3 linked regions of the Homo sapiens genome follow. The protein of the gene in region 2 binds, or shares a complex with, the protein of the main gene of each other region. Each region holds a gene or a part of one and is shown on either strand. Other genes may lie near its edges. The genes, in order: ETFA, ACADM and ETFB.

Evidence for each region.
Region 1: the proteins of ACADM (region 2) and ETFA are in contact, whole or in part, in a crystal structure (PDB 2A1T), measured with the Homo sapiens proteins. Residues at the interface, in NP_000007.1 of Homo sapiens: Pro163, Lys173, Pro211, Gln232, Arg235, Glu237, Val251, Glu253; in NP_000117.1 of Homo sapiens: Arg223, Lys226, Arg249, Asp253, Ala283, Ile284, Gln285, Glu304.
Region 3: the proteins of ACADM (region 2) and ETFB are in contact, whole or in part, in a crystal structure (PDB 2A1T), measured with the Homo sapiens proteins. Residues at the interface, in NP_000007.1 of Homo sapiens: Glu43, Gln44, Lys46, Glu47, Phe48, Thr51, Lys54, Phe55, Glu58, Glu59, Arg80, Glu83, Leu84, Gly85, Leu86, Leu98, Leu100, Ile108; in NP_001976.1 of Homo sapiens: Glu73, Arg76, Thr77, Tyr192, Ala193, Thr194, Leu195, Pro196, Ile198, Met199, Lys202.

What each region holds. Positions count from the first base shown.
Region 1 is NC_000015.10:76,285,074-76,295,020, reverse strand, and holds part of ETFA (electron transfer flavoprotein subunit alpha, mitochondrial), read left to right. Parts: intron 1-2,320; coding exon 2,321-2,402; intron 2,403-2,507; coding exon 2,508-2,590; intron 2,591-7,075; coding exon 7,076-7,175; intron 7,176-8,539; coding exon 8,540-8,650; intron 8,651-9,282; coding exon 9,283-9,384; intron 9,385-9,947. UniProt on the Homo sapiens protein: Heterodimeric electron transfer flavoprotein that accepts electrons from several mitochondrial dehydrogenases, including acyl-CoA dehydrogenases, glutaryl-CoA and sarcosine dehydrogenase.
Region 2 is NC_000001.11:75,717,119-75,727,760, forward strand, and holds the start of ACADM (medium-chain specific acyl-CoA dehydrogenase, mitochondrial isoform a precursor), read left to right. Parts: upstream 1-7,590; 5' UTR 7,591-7,669; coding exon 7,670-7,699; intron 7,700-10,642. UniProt on the Homo sapiens protein: Medium-chain specific acyl-CoA dehydrogenase is one of the acyl-CoA dehydrogenases that catalyze the first step of mitochondrial fatty acid beta-oxidation, an aerobic process breaking down fatty acids into acetyl-CoA and allowing the production of energy from fats.
Region 3 is NC_000019.10:51,361,973-51,371,918, reverse strand, and holds the start of ETFB (electron transfer flavoprotein subunit beta), read left to right. Parts: upstream 1-5,530; 5' UTR 5,531-5,592; coding exon 5,593-5,649; intron 5,650-5,789; exon of another isoform or gene 5,790-5,890; intron 5,891-9,946. Other genes in the region: protein NKG7, read left to right, coding at 84-142; CLDND2 (claudin domain-containing protein 2), read left to right, coding at 3,342-3,510, 3,893-4,033, 4,343-4,914. UniProt on the Homo sapiens protein: Heterodimeric electron transfer flavoprotein that accepts electrons from several mitochondrial dehydrogenases, including acyl-CoA dehydrogenases, glutaryl-CoA and sarcosine dehydrogenase.

The sequences.
Region 1 (9,947 bases), on a different chromosome or scaffold from region 2:
CCTGCAATATAGATGAGTGCTTCAGTTAAGCTTACACACCTTCAGCCACCAGTTCCCTCTCACATGGTATAGGAGTTGCTGAGTGTGTAGTTGGGGGCTTAAACTTCACAGAGGAATAAATCTGAAGGGAGTATGTTTTGAGGATTTTATGTTTTATTAAATAATTGATGCTGGCTGGGCATGGTGGCTCATGCCTATAATCCCAGGACTTTGGGAAGCTGAGGTGGGTAGATCACTTGAGGTCAGGTGTTTGAGACCAGCCTGGGCAACATGGTGAAATCCTGTCTCTACTAAAAATATAAAAATTAGCCAGTGTGGTGATGCATGCCTGTAGTCCCAGCTACTTGGAAGGCTGAGGCACGAGAACCACTTGAACCTTGGTGGCAGAGTTTGCAATAAGCAGATATTGTACCACTGCACTCCAGCCTGGGTGACAAAGTGAGACTGTGTCTCAAAAAATATATTAAAAATAACAATAATTCAGAGCATGTGATAATGGAGGTTCATACTGCTGGTGTTGCTTCTGTCTAATTTTTTACATGAAATTGATAAAAGAACATATTCTGGTGGGTTTATGATTAGTTATGTGGATTTCTTTACCCAATTCCTGCTAACAACTGTAGGATCTTACATAGTTGATACAGCCACAATGTGTGATGTGTGATGGCTAAGCTATCTATTTGTATGTCTGTATTAGCCACAGTATATGATGGCTAAGCTATCTTTTTGGTTTCCCTGTTTTTGGATATATAGGAATTTGTGATTTGTTGTTTGTTTTGCTGTGATTTAAAATAATTATTGTAATATTACTTTAAAAAGACTTTGATACTTTATACTACTTTGAGAAAAATCAAAATAGAAATCGTCTTCTGTACTCAGTTACAATCCTAACCTGTCATGTTCTAATTTTAAAGAAAACAACCAGTACCTGTATGAAGAGATCGTTTAATAGAGTTCGGTTTTATACCATTTTATTCAGCTACTTGTCATAAACAGCAAGTTATTCTTCTGTATAATGCCAGCCGTTTTGCCAGTAAAAACAAGATAGTTTCAATGGGAAAATTCTGCCCCATTTTCTATCCCATGCTGCTATGCAGCTACATTGCAATTAACTGAGTTTCTTAATTGGAAATTCTCTTAAAGTTTGAGAAGCTAAATGCAGCTGCATCCATAATAAAGGGCCTCTGTAGTACAAATGGTATGCCGGTGAACACTTGGTTTAGCAGAGAATGTATTCTTGCACTGCATCCTTTCTTCAGTGAATATTGTTGCAAGCTAACAGTTCATATGAGGGTGGCACAAGGCACAGCCTTTTAATCCTACTCATCAGTGAATCAATGAATCAGTTTGGAGGTAAACAAGGAGACAGAAGACGATAGTATGACTGATATGACTTAGCTAAAGTGGAAACCAGCCATGAGGTAATAAAGATACTTAAAAAGGGGAAATCTAATTGCCTTCTGAATATAGAAAATCTGAATCATCAAAAAGCTTTCTCAGAACCCCATTCTAATTCCAAACAGGAAAAATGAAGAATTAAAATAGGAAATATTTTGCTTTGTCATAGATAAATATGTGTATGTGGGCAGGAACTCAGTGGTTGACAATGGGATGTTACTAGAGAACTTCATTTTCACCATTTCCAGGACATTGAACTTACACTTGGATTGAACCAAAAGTAAAAAGCACAATTTATAACAAAATTTGAATAAAGAGCCATGTTGATTTTGGTTTGTCAATTAGCACTTTTCTTTTTCAAGGCAGGAATTTTTGTTGAAATGCTTGGTAGTTGGACAGTGTAAGGTCAGTCAGTAGTAAGATCTATTGGCATTAGATTTTCTTTGTTAAGGAATGTATTTTAATATTTTAATTCTTTGTTTGTTTGAGATGGAGTTTCACTCTTTCGCCCAGTCTGGAGTGAAGTGGTGTGATCTTGGCTCACTGTAACCTCCGCCTCCTGGGTTCAAGCCATTCTCTTGCCTCAGTCTCCCAAGTAGCTGGGATTACAGGTGCCCGCCACCATGCCTAGCTAATTTTTGTATTTTTAGTAGAGATGGGGTTTCACCATGTTGGCCAGGCTGGTCTTGAACTCTTGACTCCGGTGATCTGCCTGCCTCAGCCTCTCAGAGTGCTGGGATTACAGGCTTGAGCCACTGCGCCCGGCCGGAATATATTTTAATTCTTAACTGGCCCTTTTGCTAATAAGAATAATTTTTACAGTTGGCCATTAAGATTTTATGATCTGTTGATATTTATAGTGGTGGCTTTATTTGTATATTTCTGATAGATGGATAATTAGGAACTTATCTTTTAATCATAGGTGGCACAAGATCTCTGTAAAGTAGCAGGCATAGCAAAAGTTCTGGTGGCTCAGCATGATGTGTACAAAGGCCTACTTCCAGGTGAGGTTTTCCAGTAGAAAAAAATGTAGTGTCTAAATTACGCTTGAATATATGAATATGAAAGTATTTCAAAATATTTTTTTATCAAATGTGTTTAATTCTCAGAGGAACTGACACCATTGATTTTGGCAACTCAGAAGCAGTTCAATTACACACACATCTGTGCTGGAGCATCTGCCTTCGGAAAGGTGAGAAGGTTGAGAATGTGGAATCTGATATCACTGCTTGAAAGGGTTAGATTTCATTGTGCTGAAAGTATGCAACAGACTGTTTATGTAGCCAATCTGGATTTATCTGAATTGATGTGGTAGTTTTGCTAAAATTTATTCTTTCAAGATTTTGTCATAATTTTCCGTTAAAACTACCATTTCCAGGTTTTCAAATTATGTTGTGGAGAAAACTCTAATTAGGCTATTATTTTAAAATTTTCTGCATGTAAAAGTAATGCTGAATTCTGCTTGCATGTGAGAGAGAGAGTGAACGAGCAAGAGTCATTTCTATTAGTAGCCCATTTTAAGAGATGGTTTATTTGGATGGCTGATGGATATCTAGAAAAGCCAAATTTTATCTACGTAGGGAATTTGGAAAGGGCTTGTGGTGGTTGAAGACATCCTTAAGGTAAAGAAAGCTGTAATCTGATCATGTGCATTGTGATGTGTCTGAAGAATGAGTGTGTTATAAGATGGATAGCAGTCTACATAAAGTTAAAAATGGAGGGAGGAGTGTAATGGGAGCTTAAGACAAGGAATTCGTCAGTGGATTTTTCTTGCTCTCTCTCTGTGGCCGTGGGTGTTATCTTAGCTCTCTTTTCTTTTGTTCCATTCTTAATAAGGTGTCATTTTTAGTCTTTATTTTTACTTTCTTTTTTTTGAGATGGAGTCTCACTGTCGCCCAGGTTGGAGTGCAGTGGCGCCATCTCGGCTCACTGCAGGCTCCGCCCCCCGGGGTTCACGCCATTCTCCTGCCTCAGCCTCCCGAGTAGCTGGGACTACAGGCGCCCGCCAGCTCGCCCGGCTAATTTTTTGTATTTTTAGTAGAGACGGGGTTTCACTGTGTTAGCCAGGATGGTCTTGATCTCCTGACCTCGTGATCCGCCCGCCTCGGCCCCCCAAAGTACTGGGATTACAGGCGTGAGCCACCGCGCCTGGCCTACTTTTTTTTTTTTTTTTTTTCGAGATGGAGTCTTACTTTCCTCGCCCAGGCTGGAGTGCAGCAGCACAATCTCAGCTCACTGCAACCTCTACCTCCTGGGTTCAAGCCATTCTCCTGCCTCAGCCTCCCGTGTGTAGCTGGGATTATAGGTGCGTGCCACCACACCTGGCTAATTTTTGTATGTTTAGTAGAGACAGGGTTTCGCCGTGTTGACCAGGCTGGTCTCGAACTCCTGACCTCAGGTGATCTGCCTGCTTCAGCCTAGCTCTGTTGCCCAGACTGGAGTGCAGTGGCACGATTGTAGCTCAACATACCCTCCAACTTGTGGGCTCAAACGATCCTCCTATCCTAGCCTTCTGAGTAGCTAGGACTACAGGTACATGCCACCATGCCCAGCTAATTTTCAAATTTTTTGTATCGATGTAGTCTCCCTATGTTGTGCGGGCTTGTCTTAAACTCCTGGCCTCAAGTCATCCTCTCATTTCAGCCTCCCAAAGTGCTAGGATTACAGACATAAGTCACTGTGCTTAGCCTATTTTCACTTTTAAAAATTGTAAAATAAGTTGTACACAAATACATCCTTATTAGGAAGACTGCGTGTAGTACAGCAGTGTGCAGAGCAAGGTGTCAAAGTCCTGCTTTCTTATTCCCAACTCACCCTCCCCTCTTTAGAAGTATAGCTGTTAACAATTGTACATTCTTTTAGGCCTCCTTCTATGGATTTTTAAATTACAGTACATGTACAGCTATATATTTTTTACTTCTAAAATGGGATAATATGGCATGAATTGTTTTGTGAATAGTAGCTTTTACTTAAGAGTATGACTTGGGCAGGGTGCGGTGGCTGACGCCTGTAATCCCAGCACTTTGGGAGGATTGTCTGAGCCCAGGAGTTGTAGCCCAGCCTGGGCAATACAGTGAGATCTCATCTCTACAAAAAAATGAAAAAAAAAAATTAGCTGAGTGTGGTGGTGCATGCCTGTGGTCCCAGCTACTTGGGAGGCTGAAGTGGGAGAATTGCTTGAGCCTGGAAGGTTGAGGCTGCAATGAGCTGAGATTACACTGCTGCACTCCAGCCTGTGCTCCAGGGTGACAGAGCAACACCCTGTCTCAAAAAAAAAAAAAAAAAAAAAGAGTAGCGACTTTGGCTCATAATGTTTCTCTTTTTTTATGGCTGCATAAGATTCCATGTTTAGCTAAGGACAGTTAACTTGGTTCCAGTTTTTTGCATTTATATACTTTACTGCAAGAAAACATGGTCATGCATGTATCTGTGTAAACATGGGCTGGAATTTATTTACAATAGAGTTCTAGAGGTGAAATCACTGAGTCAAATGCTATGTAGTTTAAAAATTTTGATACCTATTACTTAATTGTCAACACTTGGTAGTATACATTTTAACATTTTTTCCTCCAGTCTGATGGGTGAAATAATCTTTGTGGACCGTTCTGTCTCTGAGAGTTTTGATTATATATTGGATGATTTAAATAATTTCATGAGCCTTGAGTTTCCTTCTATGATGACAGTTCACCTAACAGAGTGTTAGACCATGAAAGGGTGTTTGTCATTAGCTAGATTTTAGTACTCTGGCCATGATTGCTATGTTGTAACAGATGGGAGTTTTGAGAATAAGGGTCACATAATAGTAGCTGGTCGTGCGGCCTGTAAATGGGTTTGGAATGAGAAACGTCTATCAGAAGAAGCCAAACAATTTGCTGTATGATAGTCCTTCACCAGCTGTGGTTTTGAGATAACACACTTTTATACTTGTCTGCTAGAATTTTAAAATATGTCATTTTTTATGCACAAAAAGAACTCAATTATTGCTTCTTCTTCCCAGAAACCATGCAGGCAGCTTGTTGGATGGGATATATTTTTAATAGGATAGATATCTGTGTACCATCCACCCTCATGATGTTTAGATAGAAGACCAGATCCAGGAAAACATACTTTTAAGTACCATGGTAAAATTTCTTGAAGATATGTTAAACAAGGGATAATGAAAATACAAAAGACATTAAATTTTGAGCAATTTAGAAAGTTCTAAAACTTTTAAAAGAGGCAAAGTCTGTATAACATAAAATTTGTAAGATAATCTGTTCAGCCAAGTAACTATTCCAGTAATAATTCCTGAACAGTTAAAGAAGGTGGTTCAGGAGGAGGATTACTTACTGAAGCTAGCTTTAAATACTGACAAATCTGGTTTTTAAACCAGATTAAGTAGGTGCTTCAGAATGGGCATGGTGGCTCATGTCTGTAATCCCAGCACTTTGGGGTGCCAAGGCAGGAGGATCAGCTGAGGCCAGGAATTCGAGACCAGCCTGGACAACAACGCAAGACCCCGCTTCTACAGAAAAAAACAAAACATAAACCAAAAAATGAGCTGGACGCAGTAGCGTGCGCCTGTAGTCCCAGCTACTCAGGAGGCCAAGGCAGAATAATCTCTTGAGCCCAGGAGTTCAAGGTTACAGTGAGCTATGATCACACCACTGCAAGTTCAGCCTGGGTAACAGAATGAGACCCTGTTTCCAAAAAAAAAAAAAAAGAAGAAGAAGAAGAAGAATTAACTGAGACTTGGGGAACTGTGACTTTCCCAAGGATTCCTGCTGCTGAGGACAAAGTTAGCACATGCATCTATTTCAGTACAAGCACAAGAACACACCTTTATTTTATTTTTGTTGCTTTTTAAATATGTACTACACAGGCTGTTCTTCAGGTTAGTGTTATTCTTTTCCTTTTTTTTTTTTTTCTTTTGAGGCAGAGTCTCGCTCTGTCACCAAGGCTGGAGTGTGGTGGTACTATCTCAGCTCACTGCAACCTCCGCCTCCCAGGTTCAAGCAATTCTCATTCTCATGCCTCAGCCTCCTGAGTAGCTGGGACTACAGGCATACACCACCATCCCCGGCTAATTTTTTGTATTTTTAGTAGAGATGGTGTTTCACCATGTTGGCCACATTGGTCTCAAACTCCTGGCCTCAGGTGATCCTCAGCCTCCCAAAGTGCTGGGATTACAGGTGTCAGCCACTGTACCTGGCCTTACTCTTTTTTTTATACAATATCAATTTAAACAAAAGGTGAAATGTCTGCTGTGAATTTTTTTCTTTTATATACATTAAGTAAATGTATACAAGCATAATCTTTTTCAGTATTTGAGAATTTTACCACCCTTCTAAATTTGTTCTATCTTTTCTTATCTAAATTCAATAATCCACAACTGTCACACTTGGTAATTGATGTTTATTAAATTTCATATCTCATAGTTCAATATATTGCATTAAGGTGGCTTAATACTGTAAAACTCATGAAACTCTTAATGTAGTTAGAGTAATGGTAAGTACTCAATCTCAAAGGCTATTTAAAAAGCTGTGCTTGAAGTTGTGTATCCAAAGGTGCACACGAAATATAAAATATTTGAATTAAAATTTCTACAGAATATGCATTTAGAATATGTCATTACTGATCATTTATAGTCTTCCATCACTATGTATGTGTGTTAACTCACTGCTTATTTTGCTTTTAGAACCTTTTGCCCAGAGTAGCAGCCAAACTTGAGGTTGCCCCGATTTCTGACATCATTGCAATCAAGTCACCTGACACATTTGTGAGAACTATTTATGCAGGTGAGTACTCAAGGAAGATAATTAATCAACATGTTAAATTTTAGTGAAAAGCATAAATTAATCTTGAAGATAGAATTTTAAATCAAACCATACAATTGCTTTAAGTGGACCATCTTAAAGGTTTCTGAGGAAAATTTTAGTCTAGAATTGCTGGTGGCCCTTGACATGGCATTCTCTCTGATGGATCGCAAACACAGAGATTTCCTGCCTGTTTATTCAGTTTGCAGGGTGATATTTTCCTAGTGATCAATAAAAATTAGATTCACAATTTAATATATTTTGTAAGTGGTACCTGGAAAAGCAAAACTTAAAAAAAAATAGTATTCTCAATCTTTGCTGCTTCTACTTCATTTCCATAGGCATTAAGAAATTCATTTTAGCCAGCTGCAGTGGCTCGTGCCTATAATCCCAGCACTTTGGCAGGCTGAGGTGGGAGGATTACTTGAACTCAGGAGTTTGAGGCTATCCTGGGCAACATAATAAGACCCTATCTCAAAAATAAATAAATAAAATAAATTAGCTAGGCATGTTGGCATATGCCTGTAGTCACAGATACTTGGGAGGCTGAGGTGGGAGGATTGCTTGAGCCAGAAGGTCGAGGCTATGGTGAGTTGTGATCATGCCACAGCACTCCAGCCTGGGCAACAGAGCAAGACCCTGTCTCAAGAAAAAGAAAAGAAATTCATTTCAGTGTCTCTTCAGTTGATTTTTTGCTTAGCACACTGGTCTCTAGTGGGGTCGGAGAAGGCAGTGAACTCTTCGTTTTTTGCCTGATTAAAGTTGTGTATTCCAGTATGAATGGCTAATTCTGAAATTAGACTTTTCATCTTCCATAATGTTTGAGGGAAAATATTTTGTCATGGTTTAGGTTACTGTTAATGTGATAGCTAATCCAGAGTGTCTCAAATCCTCTTAAAATCTTAGCACATTCATACCTGTTCTTTATGACCTATTGTGTTTTCAAGATATTCCTCCTTTAGCATGCACAGTAGCTACATTCTTCCTAAGTTGTTGCAGCTCATAGTTTTGAGTTACTGATTGTATTGTTTTTGGAGAAGGAAGCTTTGTTCATATTCCTTTTAGAGGTGTAGTGTACCTTCTTAGTGTGGATGCCTGTTCGAGTTTCTTCCTTCTAGGTGTGGTAGTACCTGTCCTGCTTTTAAAGACATCCAGGGTTATACAGATATCTGCTGATATGTTTCTTCACCGTTATGGTTCATTTTTTCCTATACTTAATAGAGTTAGAAGACAACTGGTCAATAGTTATTTCTTGCCTTGTCTGTGAAGTAAATTCCAAGCATCAAAGGAGTGCTAGTTTTGTTGCCTTTTGCTGTTGCTTTTAAGAAATAGATTGTATGTTTCAGGAAATGCTCTATGTACAGTGAAGTGTGATGAGAAAGTGAAAGTGTTTTCTGTCCGTGGAACATCCTTTGATGCTGCAGCAACAAGTGGCGGTAGTGCCAGTTCAGAAAAGGGTGAGTGTTCATTTGGAGTTTTTTTGTTTTGTTTCTTACTTTTTTAATTCATAGACTGTATTATAATAAGAGATGACCTCTGCCTACATTTCTAATGAATAGTATTTGAAAGTTCAATTTAAATGATATTCCCAAGCTTATACAAAAATAATAAATATGTATAACTTACATCTTTTTCACATTATCTTTGGTACTAGGATAGTTGCTTTGGTAGATCAAGGGAGTGGGAGACAGAGGATCTATTAAGATTAAGCTTTTTTACTCTTGTCACTGTTTCCTATTATATTTGGGTGATTCAGTATAACAGAAGAATGTAATAGGAAACGTGTGGAGGGTGTCACACTTTAACATATATAGTGTCTTATTTGAACCTCATAGAAAGAAAGTTATTCTATATTCAGACTCAGAGAATTGAATGATTTCTGGAGTCATACAGCTAATGTGGCAAAGGCTGGAATCTAGTCTCCTTAAGTCTTTCCATTATCAGAGAGAATTAATTAGGAGCACTGAAAATTCACAGTAATTAACTTAAATTTCGTGGAATTATATACTTGTGTGTTTCTCTTGAAAATAATTCTTGTTATAGAACTTGAAATCATAGTCATTGTTTTATTATGTATTAATGTATGCAGCATCAAGTACTTCACCAGTGGAAATATCAGAGTGGCTTGACCAGAAATTAACAAAAAGTGATCGACCAGAGCTAACAGGTGCCAAAGTGGTGGTATCTGGTGGTAAGTGAAATATTAATCTTAAAAGATGTAAATTGAAAATACTTTGATTTTTTTTTTTATTTTTAGTATTTATTTTAGAAGTACACAGATCTTTTTCAAATGTAAGAAGTTGGGAAGTTTGGGATATTATTCCCATTTAACCAATTAGGAAAATGAAATTATGAGCATAATACACAGTTTGGGGTTTCTGTTGCACACCTAGTCACTGGCACCAGGGGGAGCATGGTATAAATCTTATCTGCATAACTTTGCCACTTGGTGCCATCTTATTGATGGACTTCCATGAATTCTGCAGAGTATGGTTGGCTTCTCAATTATAGATAGAACTGGCTTGAATTTCAGGGCCATCTTGTGTATAATTCCTACCCTTCTTTCCACTTGGAAAGATTTCCAGAGTTGTCCATGTCTTTGTGTATAACTCTTTAAAAAGTTTCTTAACATTTAATATCAAAACTGTTAATATTGCATAAGACATGCTTATTTTTATACATCATGCTCCTTGTCTTTAAAAACAATGATTTTTTTATGGCCCACTGACTAACTTTTTGAAAAAATAAGGACTG
Region 2 (10,642 bases):
CATTTGCAGCAACACAGATGGCACTCAAGGTCATTATTCTAAGCGCATTTACACAGGAACAGAAAACGAAATATTGGCCCAGCGCTGTGGCTCATGCCTGTAATCCCAGCTACTCCGTAGGCTGAGGCATGAGAATCACTTGAATCTCGGAGACGGAGGTTGCAGTGAGCTGAGATTGGGCCACTGCACTCCAGTCTGGGAGAGAGAGTGAGACCCTGTCTCAAAAAAAAAAAAAAGGAAAAGAAAAGAAAAAATATCAGAAGTTCTCACTCATAAGTAGGATCTGAACATTGAGAGTACACATGGACACAAAGAAGGAAACAACAGACACTGGGGCTACTTGAGGGTGGAGGGTAGGAAGAGGGAGATCAAAAAACTACCTATTGGGTACTACGCTTATTATCTGGGTGACAAAATAATCTGTGCACCAAACCTGTGACATGCAGTTTACCTATATAATAAACCTGCACACGTACCTCTGAACCTAAAATAATTTTTTTAAAAAAATAAGGTGAATTTAAAAATATGTATATTGATGGGGGTGAAACTTAGAGAAAAATTAGAGTCATGGGACTCATCCCAGCAAGGTGGGAATCTTCAAATGGTTATTAAGAAATGGAATGAATAAAATGGAAATTGATGGGGTTAAAACAAAGGTCTTAATACAACACTGCCAAAAGTTCGGTGGACCAAAGGGAGCCCCTGCTGGTCCCTCAACATTAAAGGGCCAATTTTCTGTATTTGCCCGATTGGAGAAATCGTAAAAGAGAAAGCTGACCAACAATTGCCTGAGGTAATGTTGAGGTGGTTAATGAAGATATACAAAGTTCCTTGGCTCAATTCCCTACTGGGAACACAAAGTGTTTTTCACCAGAGGCTTTTTTACAAAATGATCTTGGGTGGAGAAGAAAAGTTTCTGGGGCTAGAACACAAAAATGTAAAGATTGATAGGATTATGAAAGTTAAAAAGTTTGTAAATAAACTTTATATAAAGTTGTGACACCTTTACTTAAATGTTTCATGAAAACGGACATTGTATCTGACCAGAGCATGTTTCTCCTACTTAGTACTGCAAACTAGAAGGCATTTCTAGTAATGGTAAATCTGCCATTTAAGCAATATTAACTGGACATGCTAAATGGGAGCCAGTAAATTGCTCAAGCCCTCAGAGGGTAGAGTAGAAGATGGAGTGCTGGTAGGGATGAAACCTCCACTTGATAGCCCTTTGTGGAGTGTTTACTAGGGGTCATAGCAAAGGCCTGTGAGCACCTCCCAACAACCACTACTGGGACTGTGGACTACAGAATTTCTACTTGAGAGGCATTTCTGCCTTGGAATGGGACATTAACAGAAGCTATCCCTATGACTGGAGGACATAAAATGATCTTGACACCTAAAATACACATGCTGTCTGGAGTGATGTCAGAGAAACACTCTAACGGGGATAGCAGTGCCCAGAAGAGTACATAATAAAATGGGAATGGATCTTGCTACCTGAGGAGTGCAAAGAGGATATACTCATGAGCTGCGAGCCTCTTTCTCTCCTAGGACTGATCCTGGAACTGGTGAGGAGTTGCTGGATACCATAGTACCTGACAAACAGCTCTAACCTAAGAGTTGCTTGGCTTGTGGATGGCAGTTCCAAGGTCATCAGGCAACATCCTGTTTGGAAGGCATTACTCTGATTGAAGAAGAGTCAAGAAAACTTTTTTGTTTTGAGCTCTTTATAACTTATAATGATTAAGTGTATTTTTGTAAGCAAAATTTGTCCTTCTCTCTATATGAGTTCTCCCAAATTTGAAAACTATTTGTGTTATTTTATGGCAATATAGTTATGTACATATGTTCAATATGAATGTTTTCTTTTGTAATAGGACACAATTGGAGACACATTATTTTACCAAGGCTTTGACTGGAATGGTCTATTTTCAGACATGATCAATCTGCTTGGGGAATTGAAGTTGACTGCAGAGAGCCAATAAAAAGCCCATGGAAAGACTGGTTCCCTAAGAAGTTTCCTGACCCGTGGTAAGTAATGAATGTCACTTTCTAACAGGATCAGAAATCTCAAGATATTTTGAGACCTCAAGAAGAGAGAAATTTGTACAGGTATTATAAATGCAGTCTAATGGTGAATCCTTGGCTTTGCTTCTGGCGTTGAGGCTTTAAAACACTGGAATAAAAAATTCTGATAGTTCTAGCAAAGCCAACTTAAAAGGAGCCTATATGGCTGATCACTATTCCTGCTACAATTTATTCAAATAACCAGGCCAATATAATGAGACAAATTTATTTTGCAAATAAATTGGTCCTAGTATAATTTATCCTTGGTAGAAATAAGAAAACTGGAGAAAAAAAAATCTTAGATTCTAGCCCTGACCACTGCTTTTGAGTTTTTATAATTTGCCTATAATTTGGACTAAATCCTGAATTATTTCCTGGCTACAAGAAGTCTCTAAAAAGGAACTTGGTTTTAATTTTCTTCATGATGCTTTTAGTTGGCTGCTTACTCGAATAGGCTCCTTTCATTTTTGTTCTGGCATACAAATTCTCTTCTGATTGTAATCCTTGTGTGGATTGTATTTCTACTATTCAAATTATTGATGCTATGTATCTTTTGTTGTTTTACTTCCGAGAAAACTAAAGTCATAGTATTCTGAAGACTAGAGAAATTCAACGAAGCCTGTCAATCTCCCTTGTTTGAAATCCCAAGGAGTATGTTGGCAATGAGAAACCAATATGGCCCAGTGGGATTTCAAAGGCTCTGGGACCATTGCAAAAAAGAAGGGTGCGTGAGACTCTACACATGAATTAGTGGAATGTGGAGGACAAAGCAACGCCACCTAGGATGTTAATCCACCATGTGGACTTCCCCTGTTCTGGGAAGGCTTCTAAGATTTCCCCTCTCTCTATTGTTTCTTGTGTAAAAGCATGTACTTACTGTAAATCCTGCCCTTAGATCAAGACAACTTTGATGTTATTGTATTTCAATTGTCCTACATGTCCCTTCTGAGTCACCCTTTCCCTGTGGTATACAACCCCTGGGTCTGAGGGGTAATGGCACTGGGATCCACCATCTTGTCTCACTGCCGCCTGAGATGCAGACAGGGCTTCTGTTTTTAAGTCTCCATTAAATGTTTCTTTTTGAGAAACGTTAATGTGTCAGCCTCTTTCTTTAGCCTCTCAGCTTCCTTAGACTTTGGAGCGTAGGTCTGTATAGTCCTGCTTACCTTGAAATAGATGGGTTAGGGAGAAGGAACACCAGGGAGACGTTCGAATTATTTCACCTAAAAATGTAGAGAAGTTTTGTGAAACAGTGCTTAATTAATAAAAAGGTATTTCTTGAGAGATGGTTCTATTCCTACTACTGGCAAAAATGTAGATGAAAGATTGTTTGGCATGATGCCAAATATTACCCTATAAATTACTTCCTAATTGCAAAGGGAAAACTATAACTTTACCATAGAAAGAACTGTCTGTCAATAATCAAATGATCAAATAGCATTGTCAACAAAGAGTCAAACTTTGTAAAATATTTGAAGAGATTTATTCCGAGCCAAATATGAGTGATCATGGCCCACGACACAGTCCTTGGGAGATCCTGAGAACATGTGCTCAGGGTGGTTGGGGTGCAGGTTGGTTTTATATATTTTAGGGAAATATGAGACTTCAATCAAATACATTTAAGAAATACATTGGTTCAGTTCAGAAAGACAGGACAACTTGAAGCAGGGGTGGAGCTGGGGGGGTAGGCGGGGGGAGGTTCCAGGTTATAGGCAGATTTAAACATTTTCTGGCTGACACTTGGTTAAGTTTATCTAAAGACCTGGAACCAACAGAAAGGAAATGTCTGGGTTAAGATTAAAGGATTGTGGAGACCAAAGTTCTTATTGTGCAAAGGAAGCCTTCAGGTGAGAACAGAAAAGCATTCTGTTATCTCTCTCCTTCAGAGAGAAGAGATTGTAAATGTTTCTTATCAGACTTAAGGTCTGTGTTGATGTTAACATCACTGAGGTATAAAGAGGCATGTCCAACCCCCACTTCCCATCATGGCCTGAAGTAGTCTTTCAGGTTAAATTTAAATTTTAGAGTGCCCTAGCCTACGAGAAAGTCCATTCAGATAGTTGGGGGGAATTTAGAATTTTGTTTTTGGTTTACAGCAAGCTTGTCCAACCTGCTGCCCACAGACCACATGCAACCCACAGGCCACATGCAGCTCAGGACAGCTTTGCATGCAGCCCAACATAAATTTGTAAGCTTTCTTAAAACGTTATGAAATTTTCTTGCGTTTTTGTTTTGGTTTGTAGCTTATCAGTTAACATTAGTGTTAGTGTATTTTATGTATAGCCCAAGACAATTCTTTTTCTTCCAGTGTGGCCCAGGGAAGCCAAAAGATTGGACACTGCTGGCTTACACCATCACCAATAGTGGGACAAATCTGATATTAAATGCCTCCTAATGTAATACAATATTAACTACACAGTATGACCTTTGAAGTATCCTTATCCAATGTTTAATCTGAACTCCTCAAGCCTCTGGTAACTTGCAACTGATAGGAAATACAAAATCTAGAGGTACAAAATAAATAAAATCGGACAATCCAGCATTAGGGCATTCTTCATGACAACTGCTTGGTATCTTAAATTTGTTTAAAAAGACAGTTATTATTGGGAAAAATGAATTAGATTAAAAGCTTTAGATTAAAAGAAGCCAAAGAAAGTTAAAGCCCAACTTCAATGGGCAATCATTCATAGGATCCTGGTTCAAAAACAAACTATTTACAAAAGGTATTCTGGAGACAACTGGACAACTGGAGAAATGTAAATATTCTCTGGACCTTAAATAATAGTAGCGAATAATTGTTAATTTTCATTGATGTGATAAAGGTTTTATAGGAAATGGTTATATAGGAAAATGTCCTTGTAGGAGACATATAGCTAAAGTATTCTGAACTGAAGTGTCTTATCTACAACCTACAGATCTGAGAAAAATAAAACCAACAACCAAAACACACACACATAGGTACACATATAAATATATAAATAAATATGGAAAAATATTTGAATCTAGGTGATAATGATATTGAGAAGAAATTACTCAGGCCGATAGTACGAGTATGGGAGTCCTCAGTGTAAAAAGTGAAGTAGAGGTTCCTCTTCAAATGGACTTTCCTTTCCGTCTAATTAGGAATAAACAGTAACTTCTCTTAAAAGCAAAATTTATTCAAAGAACTGTGCTAACATATTGGAGGCCGAAACAATGAGGTTCGTGATCAACTCAGTATATCACTGGAGGCTATATGAGTAAGCAGCAAACTGTTTCTCATAAATGCAGAACGTTGGCGAACTGACAAACTGCGTATGCCACCCAGGAGGACTGCTGAGGGTAGTTACGATCTAGGCACAAATGTTTCTTATGATTAGGCATAATTGAAGCCTGTCAGTAACAATATGAACCTGTGATCAATTAAGCAGCTGACCAATCGTTACCACCTCCTCCCTGCTCCTGTTACCCAAAAAATAGGAAGGGCTGTGGAAGCTCTGTGGCTGCCTTTGCTCACGAGAAGCAGGGAGCTCTCTTCTTCTTCCCCTGGCCCTTTCCTTAAAACAGTTCCTTTTGTCTTAAGTTATCATTTCTACGTTCGTCCCTTCATTTGATCTCACAATGATGGTCTCAAGCAGTAACAGTAGTAACTGCTGTAACGATGGTCTCAAGTAGTAACCGTGGCAGTTGGCCACACTAACATTCTTTGATATCTGTTGGCCGTAATAAAGAAATCAATGTACTTTGTGCTCTTAGCTGCCACATTTTAGCCTAGATATTTGCCCTGGCATGCTTATACTGGTCCAAGGAAGCATTAGGCCATAGCCTGTTTTCTTCCTTATCTGGAGGTGTTTTTACCTTTCTCAGCATTCCACAAGTTGCTTCCTCCTTCCTTTGTTCTCCTCTGTCTTTGCCTCTTTTGGAAAGTTCTAAGTTGCTAGCCAATCAGGACAAGTACAGAGGTCCCCTTCCAGCCAATGGAAACCGGACACGGTAGTAGGGTGCACGTGTCAGGTTATAAATGACCCTGTCTCCTTTATGCGTGTGTGCTCTCGTGGCAAGACTACTAGCGAGCGGCAACCTTTCTGCAGAAAGTAAACTAGCCTTGCTAAGAGCTCCTTTGTCTCAGTGTTGATTTTTGCAACACTGAGCGCCCGTTCCCAACATCAGTAAGGCTTTTCTTTTTAATGAAAAGCAGCCCCAAATCCTTTTCTAAGAGCAGCCTGTGAAGTCGAGCTGCAGGCACAGACAAACAAGGGGGTAGCTTGCTTGGGTGAATGGTGGCAGGAACTACCGACTAGACATGTTTAAGATGAGGGCTCCATCTTCGCTTCTCTGCCAGCCACGTGTACAGTAAGAAGGGGTTACAATAGGCATATGGGTGATTTTGTGCTTTTCGTTCATCTTTTCTGTGTTTAAAATGTTCAGAATAAGAAATTGGAACAAAGGAGACATGAATAGACAATTCCTAATCATCTTTAAGAGTCCGCTTTGTGTTTTACTTACCACCACCACTTTGAAGGCTTTCTTGCCTATACCAGGACAAACTCAGCTCTTTATCCCTTTTCCGAATTTTCCTGGTACTTTCACTTTGAATATAGCGCTTAATTAACATTCTGCCTTGTACCTAGGACTAACACACTATAAATTCCCAGAAGACAAAGTAGGGGAATACAATAACAGGATATAGAATTTTAACAGCTAAATTAGATGAATTTATGGGTGACCTTTATTGGGCAAAAGAAAATGTTAAGTTAGTATAAGATTTAGTATAAGCTACCATCTCAAAACTCAGGGTCTCACTGGAAGAGAAAGTGACTCCAGGTAGAATTCCTCAGGGAGACATTCACTTCCATCATTCGCTGAACCAGGAGCTTTGGACAGCCTCGGATTGCACCCGCATATCCAAGGACACCACATCAGCGGACAAGTCATAAACAGCCTTGGGAATACGCGGAAAGGTCAAATTTACCTAAACAATTAAATTCTCTTTTAAATTTTAAGGAAACACAAGTATGCTTTCGCTTTAGGTAGGGCATTTGAGAGCAAAATGTACTAATACTTTGAATCCGCCAAGCAGACACGATCTGGGTTTGACCGTTCTCTCCGGGTAAAGGTGAAGGCTGACCACGGGGGCCGCTCTCCCTCCAGGCCCCAGCCACGCCCTCTAACCCAGGTTCCCGTCCTGCACCGCGCCGCAAGTCCCCCCACCGTTCAGCGCAACCGGGCCCTCCCAGCCCCGCCGCCGTCCCCCTCCCCCGCCCTGGCTCTCTTTCCGCGCTGCGGTCAGCCTCGGCGTCCCACAGAGAGGGCCAGAGGTGGAAACGCAGAAAACCAAACCAGGACTATCAGAGATTGCCCGGAGAGGGGATGCGACCCCTCCCCAGGTCGCAGCGACGGCGCACGCAAGGGTCACGGAGCATGCGTTGGCTACCCGGCGCCGGGGACCGCTGCCACCCCGCCTAGCGCAGCGCCCCGTCCTTCCGCAGCCCAACCGCCTCTTCCCGCCCCGCCCCATCCCGCCCACGGGCTCCAGTGGGCGGGACCAGAGGAGTCCCGCGTTCGGGGAGTATGTCAAGGCCGTGACCCGTGTATTATTGTCCGAGTGGCCGGAACGGGAGCCAACATGGCAGCGGGGTTCGGGCGATGCTGCAGGGTGAGAGGGAGCCCAGCGGTGCGGTGGGGCTGGAACATGGGTATTGTGGTGTCGGAGCAGGGGGCCCTGGGCCAAAAATAGGTGCGGCCGGGAGGAGTGGGAAGTCGGGCTGAGGAAGGAGCCAGCCTAGGGGCCCCCAACCTGCTTTCACGCCTCCTACCACCGGACGGAACGTAGCCTAGCGTTTCATTTTCCGTATCCTCCCGTCAGGCGACCCCGTTATAGCCGGCATCCTCTCTTTAGAATATCGTTTTTCTTTCTCTGGTAAACCCTCCAAATATTTACCGCGGGAATCCCACCTTTTTCCAAAGTGACCCCGTCTCTGTGTCAGAACCACGGGAAAAAGAAAAATGGAGCAGCTACTCCTTGAAATACTTAATGTTTAATAAGCTTTTCGTTGTAACGTTTCCACGTTGCTTACGGGAAAAAAAAAAGTAAAAAAAAAACCTGCAGAATTTTATGTGAACTTGTGTGTATATTCTAGTATTGGATCTTAATAGATTCTAAATAAGTTTGTCACTAGATGAATTTTGGTATCTTAAATATTCTTGATATGTTCACACCACTGCCATTTAGATGTCACTTAAAATTAAGTTAAAGTTATGTCTTGGACCAAAAAAGCTGCGGTTTTAGAATAATCCTAAAGAATTGCTGCCCATGTTTTGCTGGTGTTATGCAAGTTAATGTGCAGTGAAGGCAGAAATTGGGAGATTTCAGCTATTTTTAACTCCTACACCAGAAAAGCAGATTTCTCAACCTCCAAGGAAGGATCTAAAAAAAACCTGATATAGAAAACTTACACCCTTTTTCTCTTCTTTAACCCATAAAACTGACACTCTTATATTCCCAAGAAATGCACAAAAGTGTTCAATTCTAGTGGTGCTGTTTCGATATTTGGAATTTCATTGTTCTAGACAGAGAGCCCGAAGTAATAAAACCAATAGTTATATAGCATTAGGCTTTCAAAACATTATCGTACTTTAATCGTCCGAAAATACGCAGTGAGATTAGTCCCATTTTTTGGTTTTGAACGGAAGCTATAAGCAGTTTGTAAACCTGTCTACGGCCACAAATATGGTTGTGGAACCTAGATTCACATTCAGCAATTATAACTCCAGATCCCGTGCTGTTTCTGTTTTCTATTTGCAAACCACCTCTCTAATTAACTGGCTAACTTTGTTATGTAATTAACAGGTTGATGGGCATTGTATTCTGGTAATAGCAACCTTTGCACTTTGTTCTATGTAACATATTTTCCTGAACAGTCACATGTGAAGTGACTTTTTCCCTATTTAAATTCCCTCGGTTGGCCAGGTGCGGCGGCTCACGGTTGTGATCCTAGCACCTTGGGAGGCCTCGGCGGGTTGATCACTTAAGGCCAGGAGTTCGAGACCAGCCTGGCCAAAGCAGGGAAACCCTGTCTTTACTAAAAATAGGAAAAATTAGCTGGGCATGGTAGCATATGCCTGTAATCCCAGGAGGCTGAGTCTGCAGTGAGCGGAGATCTCTCCACCGCACTCTAGCCTGGGTGACAGAGGGAGACTCTGTCAAAAAAAAAAAAAAGTCCCTCAGTAGACCATTTAACCTGGTTTGAGTTCTGACTTTTGTGCATGGTATTTAAAAACGCATTTATAATAGAGTCAGGTTTTTTGTTCTGATTTTTGTGGAATGTTTTCCTTTGTTATGGAACCTAGTGACCAATTAGGATACTAACAGAAAGATCAGTATAGCAAGGTGGTTAATAGCATGCGCTCTTGATAGTAAATGTTAGAATCCTGGTTGCACTAATAGTAGAGTGACTTTGCCTAATTTAGTTGACTTTCTGAGCCTTCGTTTCTTCACATGCGAAAGTGGAATAAAAGTAATGGCTTAATCCTAGACTTGACCTGGGATTCAGTGAATTAACCTGTGTAACGCGACTGTAAATCAGAGTAGATTTGGTCTGTGACTGCTGGACAATAAGCACCAGAGAAACTGTTTCACTTTTTTTTTTTTTTTTTTTTTTGAGACGGAGTCTTGCTCTGTCACCCAGGCTGGAATGCAATGGTGCAGTCTAGGCTCACTGCAACCTCCGCCTTCCGGGTTCAAGCGATTCTCCTGCCTCAGCGTCCCGAGTAGCTGGGACTACAGGTGCGTGCCACCACACCTGGCTAATTTTTGTATTTTTAGTAGAAATGGGGTTTCACCATGTTGGTCAGGCTGGTCTCAAACCCCTGACCTCGTGATCCGCCCACCTCAGCCTCCCAAAGTGCTGGGATTACACGCATGAGCCACCCCACCTGGCACTGTTTCACTTTCAAAATAAAATTAATGAAGATGCAAAGAAAATGCGAGTTTTCATACTCTGTATGTTTTTATTACTGTAGTATGAGGTATGTTATTTGGAAAGCACTGTTTCAATTACAAATATTTGACACTCTTAATTATATTGTCACCTTACATGTAGGAATTCGTCTTTTATAAGTTGAAATTGTCATCTACAAAGACAGTTTCTTTTTACGGATTTTGAAAAACATAAGAATTTAAATAAAGAAACTTTAGTATATTCTTCAGCTGCTCTTTTCTCTTAGTATCTAAGCTTGTTAAAATTGCTGGATAGTTCAATTAAAATCTTTTACAGTGAAAATTGTGTAATTTTGACTGTCCTGAAACCTTTACTCAAGAACACCATTGTGGTTCCCAGTTTGGCAGCTTTAATAAATGCAAATTTTTACTTTTGTATCCATTAAACTGTCATGAATATAAAAATGGGTTGCAAAACAATAATATATGTATATTTGATTGTTTGTTTCTTTATATGTTCCTTTGAAGAAATATGACTATATTTCAGATCCTAAGACAAGTAGTGTATTAGTAGTTTAGAAGAGGGATGGCAAACGTGTTTGTAAAGGAACGGATAGTACATGTTTTTGGCTTTGTGAACCAGATGGTCTCTGTGGTAAC
Region 3 (9,946 bases), on a different chromosome or scaffold from region 2:
CTGGGGAGCTTTGGGAGGGTCCAGTTGGGGTCCCTGAGGACAGAGGGCAGGGGCAAGTGCTTAAACTCTTTCTGGCTCCCCAGGTGCCCTGAGCCTGGGTGCTCACTGTGGCGGTCCCCGTCCTGGCTATGAAACCTTGTGAGCAGAAGGCAAGAGCGGCAAGATGAGTTTTGAGCGTTGTATTCCAAAGGCCTCATCTGGAGCCTCGGGAAAGTCTGGTCCCACATCTGCCCGCCCTTCCAGCCCTTCCCCAGCCCCTCCTCTTGTTTCTTCATTCATTCAACAAAATTTGGCTGGAATCTGGTTATTTTGAGATTAATTCTGCCAAGACATAAGCCAACTGTCTGCCAGCTCCATGGTAGGAGCTGGGCACCAAGGGAAGGTGAGGGCCCACCAGGCCGACCAGCCTGCAGGGCGCTCCTGCCCAGTACGAGTGCCCGGCCCGTGTGGACACAGGCTCCAACCCGTGTCTATGTCTCCCCTTCTCCAGCACTTTTCTTCCTCCCTGTGTCTTTCTCCCTTTAGCTGGCTCTCTTTCCTTCTCTCTCCCTCTCTGATTTTGTCCCCCTTGCCAGAACTCAGCCCTTCCTTGCACTCAGTCAGTTCTCTTTGCACATTTCCCCATGCTGGGGACACTGGCACGGGTCAGACCCAGGCCCTGCCCAGCAGGGGCTCAGTCTGTGGGGTGGTGGGGAGGAGGCACTTACAGACCAGAAGCAGTTAATACAGGCCAGACAGCAGTCCCAGTGCAGGGAGAATGCCGGAAAAAGACTGACCATATTGTGGAGGGATGGAGACGACTTTTCTGGAGAGAGAACATTTAGGAGCTTCTTAAGGGCCAGGGAAAGGTAATATCCAGGCAGAGGGGCCCAAAGATGAACGTGCAGAAAAGTCAGGAGTCTTGTGGGGATGAAGATCGGTAATTTAGGGTCAGGATATAGAATGTGGGGGGCGGGGGATGGAAAATGAAGAGGGAGAGGCAGGTGGGGGCTGTGGCCTCTAATGTCATGCTGGACTTTCTCTTGAACATGATGGGGAGTTGGGAGAAAAATTGTGGGCAGGGGAGGGACAGTGTCAGCTCTGGGTGCCAGAAAGACCCCCCTGTAGACATGGAGGGGAGGCCAGAAGGTGAGGGAGGAACTTGGCAATGCAATAGGTGGGACATGATGAGGCCTGACCTGGGACCAGGAAAGGAGGGAATGAGCCAGACAGATTCAGGGGCAGGAGGAGCAGGACTTAGGGACCCAAGGCTTTTCAGGGTGAAGGGCAAGAAGAAGGTGAGGACAGTGCCCAAGGGTCTGGCTCGATGAACTGGATGGGATGGCAGGGCCATCCCTAATATGGTGGAAGACACTAAGCTCAGTTGGAATATGGTTGACTATTAAGGCCCTGAGGGGCAGCCAGGAGCAGGTGAGAACTTGAGTCAGGCTCAGGGGAGAGACCTTGGGTTGGAGATGGAGTTTTGGATGGAGCATTAAGGAGCACTGAAACTTTGGCCGTGAGGAGGCTTGCCTGGCAAGAGAGTGCAGGGTGGAGCTTCAAGGGATACCCAGATTTACAAGTGAAGGGGAGAAGGCAGAGGAGCAGAAGTCTGCAGTCAGACAGCTGGGGACCTGGAGAGCTTCTGCGGTGCCTAGAATGTCAAGGGAAGAGAAGGTTGTTTTTTTTTTTTGAGACGGAGTCTTGTTCTATCACCCAGGCTGGAGTGCAGTGGTGTGATCTTGGCTCACTGCAACCTCTGCCTCCCGGGTTCAAGCAATTCTCCTCCCTCAGCCTCTTGAGTAGCTGGGATTACAGGCGTGCGCCACCATACCTGGCTAATTTTGTCTTTTTTTTTTTTTTTTTGAGATGGAGTCTTGCTCTGTCGCCCAGGCTAGAATGCAATGGCGCGATCTCAGCTAACTGCAACCTCCACCTCCCGGGTTCAAGTGATTCTCCTGCCTCGCATCCCCAGTAGCTGGGATTATAGGCACCTGCCATCACCCCCGGCTAGCCTGGCTAATTTTTGTATTTTTAGTAGAGACGGGGTTTTGCCATGTTGGTCAGGCTTGTCTCAAACCCCTGACTTCAGGTGATCTGCCCGCCTCGGCCTCCTAAAGTGCTGGGATTACAGGCGTGAGCCACTGCGCACCCGGCCAAGGGAAAGAGAAGTTTCTAAGAAAGGGCTGGGAGTGGTGGCTCACATCCATAATGTCAGCATTTTGGGAGGCCAAGGTAGGAGGATCGCTTGAGCCCAAGAGTTTGAGATCAGATTGGGCAACATAGCAAGACCCCATCTCTACAAAAAATCTTAAGAAAATTAGCCAGGTGTGGTGGCACATGCCTGTAGTCCCAGCTACTCAGGAGGCCGAGGCAGGAGGTTTCCTTGAGCCCAGGAGTTCAAGGCTGCAGTGAGCTGTGATGGTGCCACTGCACTCCAGCCTGGGAGAGAGAGATGGCTCACGCCTGTAATCCCAGCACTTTGGGAGGCTGAGGCAGGCAGATCACAAGGTCAGGAGTCCAAGACCAGCCTGGCCAATATGGTGAAACCCCGTCTCTACTAAAAATACAAAAATTAGCCAGATGTGGTGGTGTGCGCCTGCAGTCCCAGCTACTTGTGAGGCTGAGGCAGAAGAATTGCTTGAACCCAGGAGGTGGAGGTTGCAGTGAGCCGAGATCGTGCCACTGCGCTCCAGCCTGGGTGACAGAGCAAGACTCCATCTCAAAAAATAATAATGATAATAATGATAAAAGAAGGACTCGGCCTATCATGTAACGGCCCCCAAAGCTGAGATCTGAATCTAAGCAGTCACTCAGTTGAGAGCTGCGGGGGTGTATGCGATGGTGGTGGGGGGAGTGATTATCCCTTTAAACAGCCACTGGGGGAGGGGGTTCTGGAACCCCTGGCCTCACAGAGACCCAGCCTCCCTCCCCCCGTCTCTCTGGGCTCTGTGTCTAAGGAGCCCTAGGGCACTGGGTGTGAGTCACTTAGGTGGGCCTGTGTGGAGGGGTGTCTGGGGAGGACATTGAACAGGCTGGGCTGAAAGGGCGTTCGGCTGTCGGGGGAGGTCTCTGGGAAGACAGGTTCCTCACAGCAAAGCCTGTGGTGAAGGTCTCAGAGGCCTCTCAGGGGAAGTCTCAAGGTCTCCAGTAAGGGGAACGAGGTCTGGAGGGAGGAGGTTGTGGATCCTCAGGCAGGGTTGTTGAGGGAGGGGGGTCTCCAGGTCCCCAGAAGCAGGGACCTCAGGCAGGAGTACCAGGGGAGGAGTGTGGAGGAAGCGGGCTCCTCAGCTGGGGGCCTCGGGGTAGGAAAGGCCTGGGCCCATCCTGCCCTTGTGGCCCCCGGCTGCAGCCTCAGTGGCATGGGGGTGAAGCGGAGCCTCCAGAGTGGGGGCATTCTGCTCAGCCTCGTGGCCAACGTCCTCATGGTGCTCTCCACGGCCACCAACTACTGGACCCGCCAACAAGAGGGCCACAGTGGCCTGTGGCAGGAATGCAACCACGGCATCTGCTCCAGCATCCCCTGCCAGAGTGAGGCTCCGCCCGCCCAGATGTCAGAGGGCATTTCAGACCCCCAGGGCTCGGGACACACAGCTGGGCCCATGGCGAGACGCCCACCCCTTCCACCCCGGGCTCAGTTGCAGCTGTCCCTTGTCGGCCGAGGCCGCCACGAACCCCGCCCCTCGACTTGTGGGCTTGTCCCCGACCCCCTCCCCGTCCTGGTAGCGGCAGTAACCGCAGGTCCTGATGTGACCTCCAAGTCTCAATCCAAACGCCTGACTCCCGGTCGGTGGAGCTCGGCTCCTGGCCACACACCGGGTTGGGGGCAGGAGACGGGAGAGCTTCCGGTTGCGGCCGAACCCGTAGTGACTGGGGCGGCGCCCGCGGGGGCTGATGCGCCCGCTCTCCCCAGCCACGCTGGCGGTGACTGTGGCGTGCATGGTGCTGGCGGTGGGTGTCGGCGTGGTGGGCATGGTGATGGGACTGCGGATTCGGTGCGACGAGGGCGAGTCGCTGCGGGGCCAGACCACGAGCGCCTTCCTCTTCCTCGGCGGTGAGACTGCAGACCGCCCCAGGCGGGCAGGCAGGGGCGGGCCCTGGGTGATGGAGGGGCCTGGTCGCCAGGGGAGGGGCTTGAGGTACTCGGCCAGGATCCGAGGGGCAGGGCTGGAAGAAGCCGAGAGAGGTGGGCGGGGCTCGAGACAGAGTTCAGAGCGGGAGGAGCAGGAAGGGGCCTGGGCCAGGGGCGGGCTGAGAGGCGATAGGCGTGGTCTGATAGAAGGGGGCGGGTCTGAAGGGGCGTGGCCTGGGTGCAGCCCCCACCAGGCCCAGCTAGCTCATCTTGCGGCTGGGCGGGGCCCAGGACTGCTGCTGCTGACCGCCTTGATAGGCTACACCGTGAAGAATGCGTGGAAGAACAACGTCTTCTTCTCTTGGTCCTATTTTTCTGGGTGGCTGGCCTTACCCTTCTCAATTCTCGCGGGTAAACTGGACAGCGGGAAGAGGGTGGAGGAGACTGCCCAGAAGACCCTCACCCCAGAGGCTCCCCAGCTGCCCTCCCAGGAAACCCCGGGGACCTCTCGGGGACTCCCCAACACACTAACGACTCCCGCAGACCCGGCAGAGACCCCCTTGGAGCCCCAAACCCCAGTCCCCGGGGCCCTCCCGGCCATCCGCCCCAGGGCCCACCTTCCTCTCCCTGCTCCGCACCCCCGTCCCCCCAGGCTTCTGCTTTCTGCTGGCAGACATGATCATGCAGAGCACCGACGCCATCAGTGGATTCCCCGTGTGTCTGTGACTGCAGCCTGCCTGGGGCAGAATAAAGGAACGGCTTTTTTTAGCGCTGCGGCTCCGCGTGCTTTTCTGCGGGTCGTGGGGACGCAGGCACGGGGTTGCATAGAGGCTCAGGGAAGACATAAGGACATGAACTCATAGGGAACGTGGAGACAGGGAGACACAGACATGGAGACACAAGTCTCCATGGATTGGGATGGGAACAGGGACATGTGGGAGGGGCGGGGCCAGGAGGGGACGTGGGCCTTTGGAGAGGGTGTGGAGAGGCTGTGGGGACGACATGGAGGTGAAGTAGAGACACGGACAGGGGAGGATACGGATATGGAAGGGACAGGGAACACGGGGATGGAGAGAGTGGAGAGACCGACGCGCGAGGATTCAGAGGCGTGGGAATACGAGTACCGCGACTTGGAGAGGCCGGGAAGAAGTGGGGGATCTGGAGAGGGAGAGCAGATCCGGGGATACCGGGAAGTGTTTATAGGACCGGGAGGATCTATAAACTCCGGGCGCGCTTCCCTCCAGTGCACGACCTTTCCCCTAGTTCTCTGCCCTGCCCTCTCCGCCAGGCCTTTCCTTCTCTCTCCAGGTCCCGCTCGCTCCCCGAGATCCGCTTCCCATTGGTTTGCATTGCTTGCCACACCTCCCTTCCTTCCGGCCTCTCGATTGGTCCTCTGTCGGGGAGGCGGGCTCTGCAGCGGTTGACTGGCTGACCGTGCTGCGCGCAGGCGCAGAGAGGGGCGCGGGGGGCGGGGGTGGTGGGGCTTCTGGACTGAGCCGCTGAGGGTGCGGGCTGACCCTGTAAGTGGCTGCGGCGGGAAGATGGCGGAGCTGCGCGTGCTCGTAGCTGTCAAGAGGGTCATCGACTACGCCGTGAAGGTGATCGGGCCCCCCTCTCCCACATCCCTGAGTCCCGCAGCCGTGTGCTTCCGGGGCCACGAGCGCACACTGGGTGGGGGTCTTCTCGTAACCCCCGACCTCTGCCGCTTTAACCCCCAAACGTCAAAGTCACCTGAGGGCAAAAATCCAAGAGTGAAGTTCTAACATCCGATCCCTCCGGGGTCACGGCCATGTTCTCTTTTCCCTCGTTCTGGATTCACTCTCTTGATAACTGTTCAGAGTGAGTTGCTTTCTCTATTTCTTACCCACTGGAAGAAGTCACGGTCCCTGTTTAATGCACGGAGAAACTGAGGCACAGAGAGGTCACCCAGCTAGAGAAGGGCAGAGCCGAGAGTTCTATCCAGGTTCCTCTGACTGCTTTCACCCACTAGGCTGCATTACTTACCATTGTACTCTTATATTACCCGAAATGTGCTATAGAGGGAGTCAGACAGGGTCCTGTGGGGCCCCAGAAGCTGCTTTCCACCCTCCATAGCCACAGGGTGAGCCAGGAGGCTCTAGCTAGGGAGAGAGAAGTGTGTTTGCTAGAGATGAAAGTTCAAGGAGCCAACCTGACTGAGCTGGGGGTAGCTCACATTCTCCATGAAAGAGGTGGGGGAGGGTGCTCTCAGCGCCTGGCTTGTTGTCCCCAGAGGGAAGCTGGTGTGGACAGAGGTGAATCAGACACGGTCTCTCAGGCCCGTTTCTCTCAATGCTTGGCCTGAACTGGACTGAAGATGGTGACTGTCTGTCCATGTCTGTCCTTCCCATCAGCCTGGGGACTTACCTCCGTGTCCCCAGCATTACCTAGCGCAGGGCCTGGCACCCTGGAGGCCTCAGGGTGGGCAAAACCAGGGTCACAAAGTTGACACTGATACTGCCCCTGCCTGCTTAGGGAGTGGGCTGGGGAAGAGGGTACAGGAGCCAGACTTGAGCATGAAAGTGTCAGTGATGATAGCAGCCAGCATTTAGCGGGTACTTACGTGGCAGGCATCGTTCCAAGTCCTTTGCAGAGATTAACCCATTCAGTCCTTTCAGTACCCTTTGTATTATTTATTATTTATTTTTATTTTTTGAGACGGAGTTTTGCTCTTTTTGCCCAGGCTGGAGTGCAATGGCGCAGTCTTGGCTCACTGCAACCTCAGCCTCCCGAGTTCAAGCAATTCTCCTACCTCAGCCTCCCAGGTAGCTGGGATTACAGGCATGTGCCACCACACCTGGCTAATTTTTTGTATTTTTAGTAGAGATGGGGTTTCACCATGTTGGTCAGGCTGGTCTCAAACTCCAGACCTCAGGTGATCCACCCGCCTGCCTCGGCCCCCCAAAGTGCTGGGATTACAGGTGTGAGCCACCGTGCCTGGCCGACCCTTTGTATTATTAATTCCATTGGATAGATGAGGAAACTGAGGCCTGTCAGATCTCCCAGCCAGTAAGTGGCAGAGTTACGATCGAAACCCCGGGCAAGTCTGGCTCTAGACTCTGCTCTCCCATCTCCCTCAATGCCCCCTGTCCTAATGATGCCTCTGGCAGCACATGACAGGGATGTCACCTGTAGCCCTTTTGAGACACATTCCTCTTGGGGTCCTGGGACCCAACACTTGGTTTCCTCCCTGCTCTGACTGTTCGTTACTGTCACATCTTTGGAGTCCTACAGCTCCCTGGGCCTCTTCTCTCCATCCCAGCCCTGGCCTTCCACGCCTGGCATGTCTGGGATTGGATCCGTCTCCCCCATGGTGCAGGCCCACGTTTGACTCAGCTCTGGTCCCAGCATCACTCAGCACAGAGCCTGGCACATGGATGTCTCTGGTGTGCTCAGGGAGAGAACAGAGGGGAAGCGTGAAGGCCGCGTTGAATCAGCTACTGTCCTTTCCAGAGGGTGCTGCCTTCCCCTCCCGCAGTGCCCCAGGGCTCCCTGCATTACATCCTGTCTCACTGGATGTGTCTGTTGATGTCCTTTTCAGAACAAATAAATGATTCAGACCCTGCCAGCTTCCTAAACACCAGATTAGACCTGGGTACTGTCCCACCCTCTTTCCCTTCTCCCAAAGCTGTCAGTTCTCCACCCCCCACCCTTCTTGCCCTATTGTCTCTTGGTGTCATTGTCTCACCTGGACCCTCACCCGGGTCCTCCCTCACTCCCAGTCTCTCCCTCTCAGCCCACCTCTACCCAGCCTTAGGGGCCTTTCTGCACCCAGAGCTCACCCTGCTCTCCCCTGCTCCCAGCCTGCCTGTGGCTCCCCAGCACCCTCAGGACAGAGTCGCAGCCCCTCTGCCTGGCATTTGGGATGCTTTGTGGTCCAGCCTCCTCTTCATGGTCTGCTTCAGCCGTCCACTTCCCTCCTTGGACCCTCCCTTACCCTTTGTGCTTCTGCCACTGTGACCTGCTCCTCCTGTCCTGACAGACCAGGCCGCGGCTTGCCCGTTCCATGCCTTCTTCCAGCACCACCCTCCTACCTCTGCTTTCTGTCCTTTGTCCTGCCCAACTCCAACTCATGGATTATATCAAAATCTAGTGATTCTCGGCCAGGCGCGGTGGCTCACACCTCTAATCCCTGCACTTTGTGAGGCTGAGGCGAGTGGATCAGTTGAGGTCAGGAGTTTGAGACCAGCCAGGCCAACATGGTGAAACCCCATCTCTCCTAAAAATAAAAAAATTAGCCAGGCATGGTGGCACGTATCTGTAGTCCCAGCTACTCGGGAGGCTGAGGCAGGAGAATCGCTTGAACCTGGGAGGCAGAGGTTGCAGTGAGCCAGGATTGTGTCCCTGTACTCCAGCCTGGGTGACAGAGCTAGACTCAGTCTCAAAATAATAATAATAATAATTTAGTGATTCTCCCTGGCATCGCCTCCTCCAGGAAGCCCCTGACCCTACACCCTCAGGTTGCCTTGGTATATCCCTGGGGGCTTCTGCAGTCCCTAGATTTGCTTCCATCAGCCCTCGCCAGACTGGATTGGGATCCTCTGTTTACCCCATGTTCCCCACTGCCCTACTCCATCATCCCCAGGCTGGTAGCTCCCTGCAGAGAGGGGCCATGTCTGATCCACCTCTGTTCCCAGAATCACGTGCTCACTCCCTGACCTCTTTCACCTCCTTTTCAAACATCACCTTCTCTGGGAGGACTTCCCTGCTTGCCTCCTTAAAATCACAGGCCCCAGGTCCCTGTGTTTTGCTGTGTTTTCCCCTATACTTAGCAACTAGAAAGGGAGAGGAAAGTATGTTTGCTAGAGATGAAAGTTCAAGGAGCCAACCTAACTGAGTGGAGGGAGTGACTCACATTCTCCATGAAGGAGGTGGGAGCAGGGGCACCCTCTGAGAGCCCAGCTTGTCCCCAGAGGGAAGCTGGTGTGGACACTTTGTAATCCACAGTGTTGTTTACTTATTGATTGCTCTGGTGTCTGTCGCCCCTTCTGGAATTTGAGCTCCAGGTGTGGGGGAGACAGTTTGATGTGGTCACTGCTTCCTGAGACAGTGGGTTCACTACTAGAATAGTGCAGACCTCAGACTCCAAGCCCAGCGCCTGCGTCCACTTCCTGCTGTGTGACCTTGAGGAAATTGCTTCACCACTCTAAGCCTCATTTTTCTACTCTGTACAATGGGGATGATGGTACTATCTACTTTATTGAGTTGTAATGAAAATTAAATAAGCCCTTGGAACAGTGCCTGGCACACAGTGGTTTGTTTTGTTTTATTTTTTGAGACGGAGTCTATCTCTGTTGCCCAGGCTGGAGTGCAGTGGCATGATCTCAGCTCACTGGAACCTCCACTTCCCAGGTTCAAGCAACTCTGCCTCAGCCTCCTGAGTAGCTGGGATTACACGTGTGAGCCACCACGCCTGGCTAATTTTTGTATTTTTAGTAGAAACGAGGTTTTGCTATGTTAGCCAGGCTGGTCTAGACCTCCTGACCTCAGGTAATCCACCCGCCTCAGCCTCCCAACGTGCTGGGATTACAGGTGTGAGCCACTGTGACCAGCTGCAATAAGTGTTTTTATTGGGAGTAGTAGTAATGGATGTTTAGTTAGTCATTTATTCAAAACATAACAAATGCTGTGCTCAGAGTGTATTCGTGTGTGTGTGTGTGTGTGTGTGTGTGTGTGTGTGTGTGTGTATGTGTGTCCGGCTGTGTGTATGTTTCTGGGTATGTGCGTGTATCTAACATTTTAATAGGTATTTGGCAACTCAGTAACACCCTGTCCTGTTCAGGGGCACATTTTACAGGAAGCTGATGAAGCTTAACCTTCAGGGCCTCTTTCAAGACCCCAGGAGAAAGGCTGGGCCTGGTGGCTCACGCCTGTAAA